2 linked regions of the Homo sapiens genome follow. The protein of the gene in region 2 interacts with the protein of the main gene of each other region in a pairwise test. Each region holds a gene or a part of one and is shown on either strand. Other genes may lie near its edges.

Region 1 (8,041 bases), on a different chromosome or scaffold from region 2:
AATTGGTGTTGCTGTGAGTTGTATTCGGGCTACTGGCAGCTACATTGCTGGGGTAGGTTTCTGCCATTTGACTTTTAAAGGGGGATTCAAGTCTAAAAGCAAACAGATTCATGGTTGAGAGGGCATATGCTATTTTTTGGGAGTCCTGGGTCTCTGTTAAATTACTAAATGGCTATGTGACTTGGAGTGAGTCATTTTACTTCTGGCTTCATTTTCATCTATGATATTAGATATTTAGATTTGACTAGATAATCTCTAGAATCCTTTTTAGCTCAGGTTTTAGAATTCTGGCTTATTTTAGCAGTAATAAGAGCAGTTATCATTGATTGATTGCTTACTGTATGTTAAGTTTGTTATAAATGTTTTACATGAGGTACTCATTTGACCCTTACTACAACGCTATGAGGTAACTATGATTATAGACTCATGCCAGGAATTTTATTCCTTAAAATAACCTTGTGAATAAAGGTACCATTGTCTAATTTTACAAGTGAGGAAATTGAGACTTAGAAAGTTGTTACTTTCTGAGATCAATCACTTAATATGTGGTAGAGCCAGGATTCAAGATTTATGCATTGACACTTTATGATGTAAACTTTAGCCCTTTGTTAGTTTACTGTTCAATGGGAGTCAAGATAATAGTTTTGGATTTAAATCCTAGCTCCACTACTTAACTAGTAATGTGGCCTAGAGTTAGTTATTTTGTGTCTGAGTTTGTTTCCTTTTCTGTAAGGTGAAGAAAATATCTAACTCTGTAGAATAAAGTTCCAGAAGGAAATTATTCCATTATGTTGTGTTTTGGAGGTGCTGTGATATATACAGCACTTTACACAGTGGTAGAGTGAGCTATTGCTCACTTATCTTTCTAGACTGTTTAAAGGCTTGTGTTGGGATCAGAAGGGTTAAAGAATTTGATGAAGTATCTTCTAGTCGTAGGAGTCTCTATTTTCTTAACATCATTCTAGAGTCCACTTATTGCTGAGAATCTCCTTTTACCTTATTTATTGCCCTGATATAGCTATCGCATATAATTCTTATTGTAAATTGCCTTGATTTCTTTTGGGAAAAAGGCATTGTAGTAGTGTTTATATTCTTTTTTACTCTACCCAAAGTGTATCTTTATATAACGACCTTTAGAAGATGTAGAGTTTAAATTTAGCTACCTTGATTTTGGATCCCTTTGGCCTGTAATTGTTACATCTCATTATAAATTAGAAATGCCATGAGGTAACTTAGTACATAATTGTAATTTATTCAACATTTTGTTGATTTTATTTGGGCATTTTTCCAAAGCAGAAGTAGAGATGGAGAGCAGGTAAAACTTCATAGATTGCTACCTAGAAATTAGGCATCTTTTTTGATAAAAGAATGGGGCCATTTTTTTCTTTTCTTTGCTGAGTGCCCTCTGTCATTTCTATCATGGTCTCTCTTTTAGACTAATGGCAATTCCAATGGCCTTGTACCGATGCTGAGAGTATATAACAACACAGCTCGATATGTGGATCAAGGTGGGAACAAGGTATGCTCCATGAATTGAAAGTACTGGAAATCAGAACTAAAGGTGATTTAGTCATATACACTTAAGATGGTTCATTTATGTGTAGTTTCTAATTACCTTTTTTTTACTTGTAAAATCAATTTGAGGAGGTATAATTATTTTAATATGCATATACTTTAAATGTACAGTTTGATGGGTTTTGACAAATGTATACACTTGTGTAATCACCACATTGATAAAGAGGTAGAACATTTCCATTACCCCAAAATCTTTTCTCCCTCATATACCTTTACATTCAGTCACCCCTGTCACCCCTACCCACACATACTTTATCCCTGGCTCTAGACAGCCACTGATCTATTCAGCTTTCTTACATGATAGTTCGTTTGCAAAGAATTTCTCAAGTTGTAATTCATATAAATTTGTTACTTGAAATGGGGTTGTAACATGTGCTCTAGGTTTTTCTTTCGTTTTTTTTTTTATCTCTCTCTTATCACCCAGGCTGGAGTGCAATGGTGCGATCTTGGCTCACCGTAGCCTTGACCTCCTGGACTTAAGTGATTCTTCTGCCTCAGCCCTCCCATGTAGCTCAGACTATAGGCCTGTGCCACCACACCCAGCTAATTTTTATATTTTTTGTAGAGGCGGGGGTCTCACTTTCTTGCCTAGGCTGATCTCAAACTCCTAGGCTCAAGCAATCTACCTGCCTTGGCCTCCCAAAGTGTTGGGATTATGGGTGTTAGCCACTGCACCTCGCCTAGGTTGTTCTTAAAACAAAAACAAAAACTACCTGGAATAACAAAACTCTCCCTAATTGGCTGGATGCAGTGGCTCCTGCCAGTAATCCCAGCACTTTGGGAGGCTGAGGTGGGCTGATCGTGTAAGCTCACAAGTTCAAGACCACGAGTTCAAGCTCACGAGTTCAACATGACGCAACCCCATCTCCACAAAAAATACAAAAATTAACCGGGTGTGGTGGCGAACGCCTGTAGTTTCAGCTTCTCTGGAGGCTGAGGTGGGAGGATGGCTTGAGCCCGGTAGGCAGGAGGTTGCAGTGAGCCGAGATTATACCACTGCACTCCAGCCTGGGCGGTAGAGCTAGAACTTGTCTCAAACAAAACAGAACAAACAAACAAAAACTCTCCCTAATTGATAGAAGAAACAGTAAAGTTGAGAGAATTGGGTTGTTTACCTTATTTTATCAACAGGATGGTTTACAACTAGAGTCTGCCTTTTGTGACTGTAGGCACACTAATCGCTTGTTGGTTTATGAATTTCTCTCTGATGGACTTTGGGGACCTTGATAAGACAGATCAACTTTTTGACCTACAATAAGAGCATGGCTTATACTGTCAAAGCAACTTCCTTTGGGCTTTATGTACATGTCATGTGGTGTAAAGAGAGCTGGGCTGTTGCTGAAGAGGAGGCTCCATCTGTAGTTCATCATGTCACTTTAGAAAAGTTAATCTTGTTTCACATTTTGTTTATATCATTCGTTCGTTTTTACTCATAGAATTGTAAAATATTACTTTTACAATTATATATGGAAAACTTACACTTTTATAATACTTTTATTTATGTTATTTAATTCATTGTAGTGAAAATCAAAGGAGATACTATAAAAGTGCTTTGGGAGACATGATGTTTCTTTGTTTCATTTTTATTCTGAAGAGAATTATGATTTATTTACCACTAGCGTCCTGGGGCATTTGCTATTTACCTGGAGCCTTGGCATTTAGACATCTTTGAATTCCTTGATTTAAAGAAGAACACAGGAAAGGAAGAGCAGCGTGCCAGAGATCTTTTCTTTGCTCTTTGGATTCCGGATCTCTTCATGAAACGAGTGGAGACTAATCAGGTGAGAGATAGGTACTTGTTGGTAATAGCAACTTGATTCACATGAGCTTTCTCTTTTTTAGTCATCTTAAGTCATGCTTAGGAAGAGCCCATATGTGTGTGATGCCACAGAAGGCATTCTGAACAAGTTAAGAGATGCCGTGCTTGTCTTCTTATATTTCTATTCTCTAAAGTAGATGCTTTGTGACCTAAATGCTTAAAAGGTCATGTATAAACAGGCAGACCTAGATGTTTGGGCCTGAACCTGAAAATGATTATTTCTACAGCAAATTTCCAAGAGAGCTTGTAAAAGTCACCTTATGCTTGCAGTGTTTCTAATGGATTATGGTTGGCTATTTGAAGTTTCTTATGAGTGATTTTGTCCTTTCCTTTTTAGGACTGGTCTTTGATGTGTCCAAATGAGTGTCCTGGTCTGGATGAGGTTTGGGGAGAGGAATTTGAGAAACTATATGCAAGGTATGGGAAAAATATGAAAGAAAACAATAATGTTTTAATCATGGTTTCTCTTATTTCAGGGGTCCAAATATCAAAAGTACTTGTCAAGAATCTTTTGAAGCATCTAAGAGAAAAAGTGACTAATAATTTTGGTCAGATTTGCTTCCTGACTCTTCACCAAAATTGAGTTGTGTCTTCTTCTTTCTTAAAACTTTGGAATGTATAAATAGGTTCTTGGGATTTTTAATTGATCCTTTTAAAATTTAAGATGACTAGTAGGGTTATTATTTTGCTCTGTCATATAGTACTTTTGATAAGCTATGCTTTATGTTGCATAAAGGAATCATGAGTGACTAGGACACATATGTCAGTAGTTTATTAAAATTAAATAGGTCAGGTGCAGTGGCTCACATCTGTAGTCTCAGCACTTTGGGAAGATGAGGCAGGTGGATCATTTGAGGTCAGGAGTTCAAGACCAGCCTGGCCAACATGGTGAAACCCTGTCTCTAGTAAAAATACAAAAATTAGCTGGGCGTGGTGGTGCACACCTGTAGTCCCAGCTACTTGGGAGGCTGAGGTAGGAGAATTGCTTGAACCTGGGAGGTGGAGGTTGCAGTGAGCTGAGATTGTGCCACTGCACTCCAGCCTGGGTGATAGAACGAAACTCCGTCTCAAAAAAAAAAAAAGGAAAAAAATTTAGCACAGTCTTAAGAGATTTGGCTTCCTTAGTTTTTACTCCTTTTTATTATGAAAGATATTATTGGTTTAGTGGGATTGCGATCATCTGAAGGCACCTAAAACTGCCTCATTTTCCCCTATGGCTTTAGCTAGAGTAAAATAAATATCATATTCCTTTTTTTCTTTAGCAAAACTTAGAGAAAATTTAAGAGTTTTCATAACTTTATATTTTAATGTCTTCAAGTTGTCTACAATAAAGTTTTTTTAGGGAATATATATTAAATAATATTATCTGTGCCTTTCAGTTATGAGAAACAAGGTCGTGTCCGCAAAGTTGTAAAAGCTCAGCAGCTTTGGTATGCCATCATTGAGTCTCAGACGGAAACAGGCACCCCGTATATGCTCTACAAAGATTCCTGTAATCGAAAGAGCAACCAGCAGAACCTGGGAACCATCAAATGCAGCAACCTGTGCACAGAAATAGTGGAGTACACCAGCAAAGATGAGGTAGGTAGAAAAAATTCTTCCTAGAGTACTAAGAAGAGAACCTTAGGCAGTTATTATTTGTGAATTCCTCACTTGATTTCACTTGAGATAAGTGAAGGGAGTTTGCATAGTTGTAAGCAGAAGAACACTGTTAAAGGCAGAGAGCAAAGGAAGGAAAGGGTATGATCTGTGCCTATAAATGTTTTTTAGTCTAAGCCGTGTGGGAAAGACACAGTTTTTTCTTATACACACATCACTGTAATAACATTTACTCAAGAAAAATAGAAATATACAGTTATGTTAGTTTAGGACACACACAAAAATGTGTTAGGATGTACATTCAATTTAAACTATGTAAGCCTTGAGCCTGGAAAGTGGAGGCTGCAGTGGGCTGAGATTGTGCCACTGTACTCCATCCTGGGCGACAAAGTGAGACCCTGTCTCAAAACAAACAAACAAAAAACCAAAAACAACAACAACAAAAGTATGTAAGCTTATAAAGAGAGTCCTTTCAGTGAATGGTGAGATCAAATTCTAATCTCAAGTCTGTAAAGAGACTTCACAGAAGAATCAAGGCTAGAAATGGGACATGGATTTGGTGTTTTAAAAAAAAGTTTGAGAGAGGAGCTTTCCATTTGGAAAGAGTGGTCTGTATGATACACCAGAGACAGGGCTGGGTTTTATGCAGTGTGGCAAGTAAGTCTGTTTTGATGGTGCAAGTAGATTAATTATTGGAATATGGAGAGATGGCTATGGCTGGGGGAAGGGAGATAGAAGGTAGAAGCTGACACGTCACGGATAGGTAGCCCTTGTAGGTTTCTGAGAGGAAAATAGCATCAAAATGTTAAGATGAAAAGGAAGGTTCTTGCTTCTGGTTACAGAGTGTCTTGCTGTGAGAAGGGATTAGAGGTTAGCCTAGGGAGATTGTTGTACTAGTTGGATGACAGGCTGCTTTGATCTTGGATGTAAACTATGGAAACGAGGAAGGAGTAGATCCTCAATTCTAGGACCTTAAAAAAAAAGACAAATGAAAAGTCAGGAAGTAAATGGAAAGTGAGTTAAATATACTGCTAAGGTTACAGTTTAATTCAAAATTTATTGTGCAGTAGCTATATGTAAAACACAATGTTAAGTGCTCTGAGAATATAAATAAATATGCTGCCCTCTGGAAACTTCTAATTTAGTTGGAAGACATCGACATATATTGAGGTAACTATTATGCAAGACAGATTATATTATAGAGGCTAGAGTGACATTTTTAAAATAAAAATCAGATAATGTCATTTGTCTGCACAAAACTACTCTTTGGCTTGCTAACCCATGCAGAATTCCTTTTTTTTCGGGGGGCGTCAAGATTTCACTCTGTTGCCCAAGCTGGGCTGTGGCTCACTGCAACCTCAACAGAGTTCTTTCTTTTTGCAAATTGAGCTATAATTCACTCTTTTTAAAATGTACAATTCAGTGTTTTTTTTCTTTTCTTTTCTTTTCTTTTTTTTAGTATATCTGCAAGTCTGTGCAACCATTACCACTATCTAATTGTAGTATTTATTTATTTTATTTTTTTTTTTTTGAGACAGAGTCTTGCTCTGTCACCAGGCTGGAGTGTAGTGGCTCGATCTCGGCTCACTGCAACCTCCGCCTCCTGGATTCAAGCGATTCTCCTGCCTCAGCCTCCCGAGTAGCTGGGACTACAGGCGCGTGCCACCACACCCAGCTAATTTTTGTATTTTTAGTAGGGACGAGGTTTCACTATGTTGGCCAGGATGGTCTCAATCTCTTGACCTCGTGATCCGCCCACCTCAGCCTCCCAAAGTGTTGGGATTACAGGCGTGAGCCACCGTGACCGGCCTGTAGTACATTTTTATCACTGTAGATAATGAAACCCTTTATCCATTAGCAGTCACTCCCTGTTCCCTTCTTCCCTCAGCCCTTGACAACCACTAATATATTTTCTGTCTCTAGATTTGTGGACATTGTGGACATTCCATAGGAATGGAGTCATATAATATGTGGCCTTTTGTGTCAGGCTTCTTTCACTTAACATGTTCTTTTATTCATGTTGTAGCATGTATCAGTACTTCATTCCTTTCCATCCAGAGTTCTTACAGTGCCCTACAAGGTCCTACACAACTGGATAACCCACCTCATCTGCGGTTACTTTCCCCTTTGTTCACTTTGCTCCAACCCTATTAATTTTCTTGCTTTTTCTCAAACATGTCAACCATGCTCCTACCTCAGGATTTTTGCTCCTTCTTCCCTCTTGAATGTTAAAATGCACCCCCTCTTCCCATAGCCACATGATTTGCTTTCTAACCTGTTCAGTTCTTTGTTCATATGTAACATTTTCAATGAGGTCCTTCTTGACAATTCTGTTTAAAAATTATACCCCCTTCATCTTTATCCCCAGTACTCTCTGTCTTCTTTTCCTGCCTATTTTTCTTCCTGGCATTTATTAGACTTCTGTGATTCAAGCTATATTTAAAAAAATGGGTATTTGGCAACATGTGTAGAATGGAGTAGATGTGAAGGGCATCAAGAGTTCAACTGGGAAACTTTCAGTAGTCCATGTGAGAGAAGTTAAGACTTTGGCTTGGGATAGTCATAATCAAAATGGAAAAGAAAGTGTATTCATTCAACATTATCAAGACTTACTGTGTGCCAGATGTGTTGCTAGTGCTAAACATATAAATATAAATAAGATGATCCTTGTGTGAAGAAGCTCACTGCCTCGTGTAGTGGAGAAATCACTGGAAGAGCTTTTTCAGAAATCACAAATTGAGATCCATTGTTGCTAAGGGCTTGTCAGAATATCAGTGAAGGTGAGGTGGACGTGTGTGTTTTGAAGAACTCTGCAGTGATGGAAATGTTCTGTATCTGATGGCTATTGAGCACTTGAAATATGACTAGTGCAACTGAGAAACTCAAATTTTATTTCATTTTAAATAGATATATGTAGCCAGTGGCTACCATATTGCAGGGCACTCATCTACTGAATAATGAGATAGGTATATGTAAAAAGCTAATTATAACATAGTGTGATATATGTCTGGTAATAGAGCTGTGTACTGTGGAACATAGGGTTCTCTC
Region 2 (8,041 bases):
CACTCCATCCCCTTTCCAGCTCCTCTTCCCACTGAGAGCCACTTTCATTGGCAACAAAATCCTCTGTATTCACCACCCTTCGATTTGTTCATGTGATCTGATTTTTCCTGGATGCTGAACAAGAGCGTGGGTGCCACAGGTGTGGATGCTAAAAGCTGTCACACTGACCCTCTGCCCTCACTGGTGGAGACCAACTGCCCCATGTGAAAAGGCAGAGGGCCCACTGAGCCGTTAAAACTTAAGCCATCTGCGGACAGCAAAAGCTAAAAGAGAGTTAACTATAACACATTCCTTCTGGGGCTTCAAGGGTTGTGGGTACTCCTCACAGATGCTGCCATGAGGCCTGCATGGAGTTTTGCTCCTGCCGGTGCCCAAAAGAATTCACCCAAGCTCCTGCACCTGCTCACCTGCATGCTCCCTCCCTCAAGGGGCTGAGCGCAATGGGTTCAAGTGAGTGGAGTTTGCCCCTGCCAGCGCCAAAGCAGCCAGCTAGCTCCAGCATGCGCATTCCAGTTCCCACCCACGAAGGGATCGGAGAAACTATCCTGCTTCAATTTTGTCAGAAAAAATCTTTTAAATATTTTTCATAATTAACTTCATGAACAGTTGAAATATGTAATTGTCTTTGTCTTTTGCCTTTCTTTTATTTACTCTAACAAACCCTCGGCTGGGCACGGTAGCTCACGCCTGTAATCCCAGCACTTTGGGAGGCCAAGGTGAGTGGATCATGAGGTCAAGAGATTGAGACCAACCTGGTCAACATAGTGAAACCCTGTCTCTACTAAAAATACAAAATTAGCTAGGCATGGTGGCGCATGCCTGTAGTCCCAGCTACTTGGGAGGCTGAGGCAGGAGAATCGCTTGAACCCAGGAGGAGGAGGTTGCAGTGAGCCAAGATCGTGCCATTGCACTCCAGCCTGGCAACAGAGTGCAACTCTGTCTCAAAAACAAAACAACAACAACAACAAAAAAAAAAAAACCCACAAAGCCTCAAGCCTCAATCTCTTTGACCTTTCCAAAAAGGACTAATGTCCCAATCTTTTAATCACATGCTATTTTCCAAATCCTTTTTCCCACTAATTTATTCTTTAAGTGTTTGCTGAGCACTTACTGCACACCTGACACCGTGCTAAGCACTGGGGATACAACGGAGCAGGGTGGAGGAAATATTTGTCTTCATCTTTTAAAATATGCAACCTAAAAATCAAGTTCTGTTCTATTAAAAGCTCAACTCAGGTTTAACTGAAGGACATCTTCTTCATTCATATATATTATAACCCCTCAGGTTTTTTTTCGGAGACAGTCTCACTCTGTTGCCCAGGCTGGAATACAGTGGCATGATCTGGGCTCACTGCAGCCTCTGCTACCTGGGCTCAAGCGATTCTCCTGCCTCAACCTCCTGAGTAGCTGGGATTACAGGCACCTGCTGCCACGCCTGGCTAATTTTTGTATTTTTACTAGAGACAGGGTTTTACCATGTTGTCCAGGTTGGTCTCAAACTCCTGACCTCAAGTGATCTGCCCACTTTAGCCTCCCAAAGTGCTTGGATTACAGGTGTGAGCCACCATGCTCGACCTCTTATATATTATATATTTGATATTAAATGTTAATATTGTAAGATGCTTCCTCTTAAATATTAAAATTATTTCTTTGAACACTCAGTTTCAAAGGTCTTCTAAATTTTATTTACACTACATTGGAAATATTCCCTTCCTGCCTAGCTTTTTCTTATTTGAGCAAATTCTCAATTTCATCATTTAAATACTGATTCCAAACTAGACAATTATCATAACTGCCTGAGTGGCTTTAAAGAAAAAAGTCCCAAACCCCAGACTTTTGTCTTTTGATCAGGGTTTCTGTTGATCAGCCATATTTAAGAATTAAGCTCAACCATTTAAGCTGACTAAATGGTAACTTACATAATTTGTAAATGAAAAATATGTGGAACTAAAAATGTGTTTGATTTATCTTCAAAATATGTATTTGAATCGTCCTATAATTAGCTACAGAACACGTACCAACCTGTAGATTTCAGTTTTTAAAAATTAGTGTTGCTTTGTTACAGGTCACATATTACCTTTGCTAAAAGATGCAAGTTAATTTCCAAATGAATTTCAAGAATCCTAAGAATCCTAAGTACCTTTTTAACATAATGAACGAAAAAGCCACCTGCGTATTCCACTCGTTCTCTGAACCGTATCTAACAAAAAACCTTTCTAAAAACCACAGACAGTTAGGGACAGTCAGGTGTGTCAAGCATTATGACCACGTATGAAAATATTGGGTGTTTGTTTTTGTGTGGTTTGGTTTTTTGCTCTATATGTCAACTATAATATAACAAAGATGTTGACAATATAACACTACAATATAACAAAGATGGGTAAGTGGGTAAAATTAGTGTAATAGAAGCTTCAAACACTGGTGCCTTCTGATTTCTAGGTTAAATTTTCCCCCTTCTGTGCATAAAATAATAGTTTACATTTATTTAGTGCCTACTAAGTGTCAACTACCATTTTAAATATCTCATAAATCCTCATAACAACACAAATAGCCAAGTACAATTAGCCTAATTTACTGATGAGGATACACAGAGAGGTTATGTAACTTTCCCAGTTCCATAGCTAGTAAGTAGTGGCACAGGATTTGTACCTAGGCAGTCTGACCCCATAGCCTGCATTCTTAACAGCATGTGTTTAACATTTATAGAATTAATGTCTTGAAAAATAGATTCAAATCTATCTATCCAAATAGATACATCTATCTATAGAGATACATATACAAACATATACAGAACAAGAGTGCTGTATAGGTATCACCCATTATATTTAAAGATCAAGACAATAACTATTTGTTCAGTTAGACTACAGGGCAATCATTTTCATGACCACTGTCCTTACCAACCAGCAAATATTTTCTAGTTTGCTGTGTTCAACTGATCTCCCAGGTGGAATTAACAAAAAGCTTTCTACAGCTGATCTATTAGTGGCAACTCTGTCACGTTTGATGTAGCTGAGGGCAGGGCCAAACTGGGAGCAGCACTGTGAGTTCCACCTGGCTGACTCGGGAGTGAGTCCACAGCCTAGAGGATCAAACTCTTCATGCAGCGGCTCATTTTGTACAATCAGATAAATCTCTCAATTGAAAGCAGAGTTGCTACAGCTTTCACTCATTTTTTGACTACAGCTGCAATTTTACTTATTCTGCTGACCTTGTAAGACTAGTCAGACAAGTCTTACTTGGCCATATCAAACTAAAAGTCTGTTTAAAAATAGAAAATGTTGGCTGGGCGTGGTGGCTCATGCCTGTAATCCCAGCACTTTGGGAGGCTGAGGCAGGTGGATCACAAGGTCAGGAGTTTGAGACCAGCCTGGCCAATGTGGTGAAACCCCATCTCTACTAAAAATACAAAAATTAGCTGGGCGTGGTGGCTGGCGCCTGTAATCCCAACTACTCAGGAAGCTGAGGCAGGAGAATCGCTTGAACCCGGGAGGTGGAGTTTGCAGTGAGCTGAGATCGCGCCACTGCACTCTAGCCTGGGTGACAGAGTGAGACTCTGTCTCAAAAAAAAAAAAAAAAAAGAAAAAGAAAAAAAATGTTCTAATATATTGGAAATAAAAATCTGGCAGAATTAGATGCCATTGTTGCAGCAGAAAACTTGTTTATAGATAGTAATCTAAACTAAAACATTGAGAACATCATATTTAGTCTCAGTAATTCCAACACTTATCTTCTACAACTGATCTTCTTCAATGTATAAGTTAAAGTTATTCAATATCCTGTAAAACAAGAAGGAACACTGCACTATAGGATGTGAATGCTCTTGGAGGCAATGCCACGTACCTCTTCTGCTGTCCAGAAGGAAGCCTGTGCCTGTTTATACATTTTCCAAATATCAGGGTACTGGATTGGAAAGATGACAAACCGGCGAGAACTCTTTCTTAGGAGTGGCTCTTCATTTGACTTTATTTCACTTTCGTTGGTGTCTGAAGATGATCTCTTTGAAAAATAAAGTACAAACACGCCTTTTATATAGACATTTCTTCTTTATTCATACCTAAACATACATCTAAGGAAGTCAGGGAGACGGCATTGGTTTGAGAGCCTGTCTGCCTGGGTTGAATCCTTACTGTTACCTGGTAGCTGACTAATACTGTTAGGAAGTGCGTGTGTGACCATAGAAAGCTGCTTAACTTCTCTAACCCTCAGTCTCCTCAGCTGTAAAATAATTCCTACCTCATAGGTTTATTCTGATGATTAAAAGTGCTTTAAACAAAGCCTGGTATATAGTAAGCACTCAAAAATTATTGTAATTATTGCTAGTTTGAGGATAAGTACAAAGCTAGACCCATAAATGTCATCATGATGGGCAAATTTCTAAGTTTGTGAACAAAATGTCCCTTTAGAGCCTCTCTGATAAGATTGCTGGAATGAATAAGCTACTGGTATAAGCTACTTTAATGTTTTTTCTTTCTACTCTTCACTGAAATAATATAATACTTATCTGAAAACTCATTACCTACAACTTAACCTTTGTTCATCTTAGCCTTCTGATACTCCAATTTGTTACTGCTATTTACATTCTAACATTACTGCATATGATCTCACTGTGGGCTGTCTCAAAGCTTTGTGAATAAAGTGAGAAACACATACCTGTATTCACACTGCTTCAAAACACGATGGCACTCTAAGAGCAAATGGTGCCATGCATATATTTTTAAAATAGCGGGAACATCAGAAGAGAATCAGAAGAGTCGCACATGTGTGAGAATGAGTATAAACAAAGGACATACAAATAAGCTAAACGTGTATAAACCAGGATTAGAACACATACAACTTCTAGACTCCTATCCAAAACTGTCTCTCTCTCTACTGTGACAGGCCCGTTATGTTCCTTACTCCAGCGTCCACCCATTGTCACCTCGCCAAAGCAACTGTTATAGCAGAGGAGGCTAAGGCTTAGCAAGAAGAAAGCCCAAAATACAAGCATACGGCTATGCAAATACAGGGGGGCTTGCGTGCTTTATACCTACTGCCATCACAGTACAGATGGTCTTGATTTTAACTACTTGTTTAAAGGTATGGGCCTCCTCAGATACAGCACTTGAGCCCTGGAGAAGAGGAACCAATTTTTATTTGTTGTGATGTTCCCAGAGCTTAGTATCGTGTCAAGCATGTTAGCTAAGTAAATGGGCTGCTAATTTCTCTTCTTCCTGTACTCAGATTTCTAGGTACCTTTAGAAAATTTTAATTTAACATAGGACCACAATACATCAGTGAGACAACCCAATAACCATTAAAATCAATCACATTTTCCCCTCTTCACATCACCCCAAAGGTCTGGGTTAGGTTCCAGATATAAGTACATAGCTCACTGCAATTTAATTCCCTGTTAATTGTCTCTAATTTCCTGTGCTTCTTGAAAGTAAAATCCATTTTCACCCTTGTAGAATCCCTTGTGCTTAGCACAGTACCTGGCACTTAGTTGGTACTCATTCCACAAATATTTGAGCAATTTTTTTTTAAGACTGGGTCTTGCTCCGTCACCCAGGCTAGAGTGCATAGATCAGAGTAGTGTGATCATAGATCACTGCAGTCTCAAACTCCTGTGCTCAAGCAATCCTCCTGTCTCAGCCTCCCAAGTAGCTAGGACTATGTGCACACGTCACCACACCTGGATAATTTTTAAATTTTTTGTAGAGATGGGGGTCATGCTATGTTGCCCCGGCTGGTCTCAAACTCCTGGCCTTTGTTATTTTTATTACTGAAATTTGGGATATACTCAAAGTATGAAAGTTGGGAACTTCTATACTTTTGTTACTGGAAGTTGGGAAGGACATCACAAGCAGTCACTCTTCAGCACCAAATGCCCTGACGATGAATGAAGTTTTTAAATGATGATAAATAACTGATCTGCTGAAGACTAGTACCTTTAAGTTAGAATGAAAGTCACATTTGTATACACATTCTCCTGTTCTATCCTGATAACCTGTAGACTATTAAGAGGAGTAGCTGGATTAGGAGTGTATTATGAGGGATTTTGCAATGTGAAGAGAAGGAGGTTAACCAACATCAACCTTTGAGCTGGGCTAGAGATGACGTATTATTTCATAATGCTTAGAAACGTGCACAAACATACATTTGAATACAATTTCAGAAAGTTCATGCATCTTGAAACTCTAGGCTCTCCACAGTACCCTCTGTGGACCTAATCTAAGAACCCATATTTTAGAAGAAAAAAAAAATGTGAAAAAAGATATGATGGGCAGGGCGCGGTGGCTCACGCCTGTAATCCCAGCACTTTGGGAGGCCGAGGCGGGCGGATCATAAGGTCAAGAGATCGAGACCATCCTGGCCAACATGGTGAAACCCTGTCACTACTAAAAATACAAAAATTAGCTGGGTGTGGTGGCGCGTACCTGTAGTCCCAGCTACTCGGGAGGCTGAGGCAGGAGAATCACTTGAACCCAGAAGGCAGAGATTGCAGTGAGCTGAGATCACGCCACTGCACTCAGGCCTGGTGACAGAGCAAGACTCCATCTCAAAAAACAAAACAAAACAAAAAGAAATATATGGGTGCATGAGAGAGCAGCCTACTAGACATAGAAATTTCAAAGCTCATGGGTATCTATATTTTTACAGGGTTAATAAAAGAGCAAAATTGGTTAGTAGTAATCTGATTTTTAAAAAATTTTGGAGGTTAAAGTGGTCTGCTTTGATATAAAACACTTTGGCATCTAATAACTCTAAGATGTATGCTATTGGGAGCCACTGAAGGTTTTTAATAAGGCAAATAACATAATCAGATATATCTTTTAAGATCGCTTTTCTAGAAACATTGCTAGATTAGAAGAGAAATTAGAGGCAGAAAGAACAATGAAAAGATTATTGTACTACCCATCTCTTGCCTGAACTAGAAACACACACAAAAATTGATTTAAGTGATATTCAGAAGTAGAATGAATTATTCTTCCTAAAAATTTGAATTTGGGACAAGGGGCAAGAACAGTTAAAGATGCCCTTGATGTTTCCAGCTCCAGTAACTGGGTGATAACAAGATCTAAAAGGCACACACAAGGTGCTCAGTACCTGGAGAATAAATAAATAAATCAGACAAAAATTTTGCTTCTCACATTAGATGTTTAACGGAAGTTTAATTTAACTCCTCCCACCAAGCCAGGCGACAACAACAAAGTTACAAACACAATATCCTCACAAAGTCAACTAGGTCATTAGAAGAGATAATGAATTCAGGCCCGGCGTGGTGCCTCACGCCTGTAATCCCAGCACTTTCGGAGGCCGAGGCGGGCGGATCACAAGGTCAAGAGATTGAGACCATCCTGGCCAACATGGTGAAACCCCGTCTCTACTAAAAATACAAAAATTAGCCGGGCGTGGTGGCGTACGCCTGTACTCCCAACTACTCGGGAGGCTGAGGCAGGAGAATCACTTGAACCCAAGAGGCAGAGGTTGCAGTGAGCCGAGATTGTGCCACTGTATGTACTCCAGCCTGGTGACAGAGTGAGACTCCGTCTCAAAAAAAAAAGAATAGAAAAGATAATGAATTCAGTTTCAAGATGTCCAGTAAGCAGTTAAAAATATAACACTGCAGAACACGAGTGATGGAGATCCCATTAGTGGTTGCCAAGGGAATGGATGTGATTATCCAGAGAGAACATATAGAGCAGCAAGACAACTGAGGATACAGTCTTAGAGAATGCTGATATTTAAAGGGCAGATGAAAGAAGAGAAGCCAGCTGAGATTAAAACAGGCTGAAATGGATGCAGGACAAGGAAAAGCAAAAGTAGGAATGATGTGATTTGGCTAAAGCAAAGGATCTAGACTCTTAAGATAAATCAGACTAAGAGGTTAGGAATCAATTTTGTGGCCAAAGATCTTCAAACATCGGAGGTCTAGAAGGCTCATACTCCAATTCTCCCCATTTGCCCCCAACCCCAGGTGCTGGCGTTCATAGCAGGGTACAGTTTGAAAATCTGTACCCCACAGATTTGGGGGTACAAATAGTCATGGAGAGTTTCTGAA

What was found.
Region 1: the proteins of RRM2B (region 2) and RRM1 interact in a two-hybrid assay, tested with the Homo sapiens proteins (one study listed by BioGRID).

What each region holds. Positions count from the first base shown.
Region 1 is NC_000011.10:4,118,410-4,126,450, forward strand, and holds part of RRM1 (ribonucleoside-diphosphate reductase large subunit), read left to right. Parts: coding exon 1-52; intron 53-1,435; coding exon 1,436-1,519; exon of another isoform or gene 1,520-1,561; intron 1,562-3,194; coding exon 3,195-3,356; intron 3,357-3,731; coding exon 3,732-3,811; intron 3,812-4,773; coding exon 4,774-4,975; intron 4,976-8,041. UniProt on the Homo sapiens protein: Provides the precursors necessary for DNA synthesis. Catalyzes the biosynthesis of deoxyribonucleotides from the corresponding ribonucleotides.
Region 2 is NC_000008.11:102,228,309-102,236,349, forward strand, and holds part of RRM2B (ribonucleoside-diphosphate reductase subunit M2 B), read right to left. Parts: intron 3,997-8,041; coding exon 3,841-3,996; intron 1-3,840.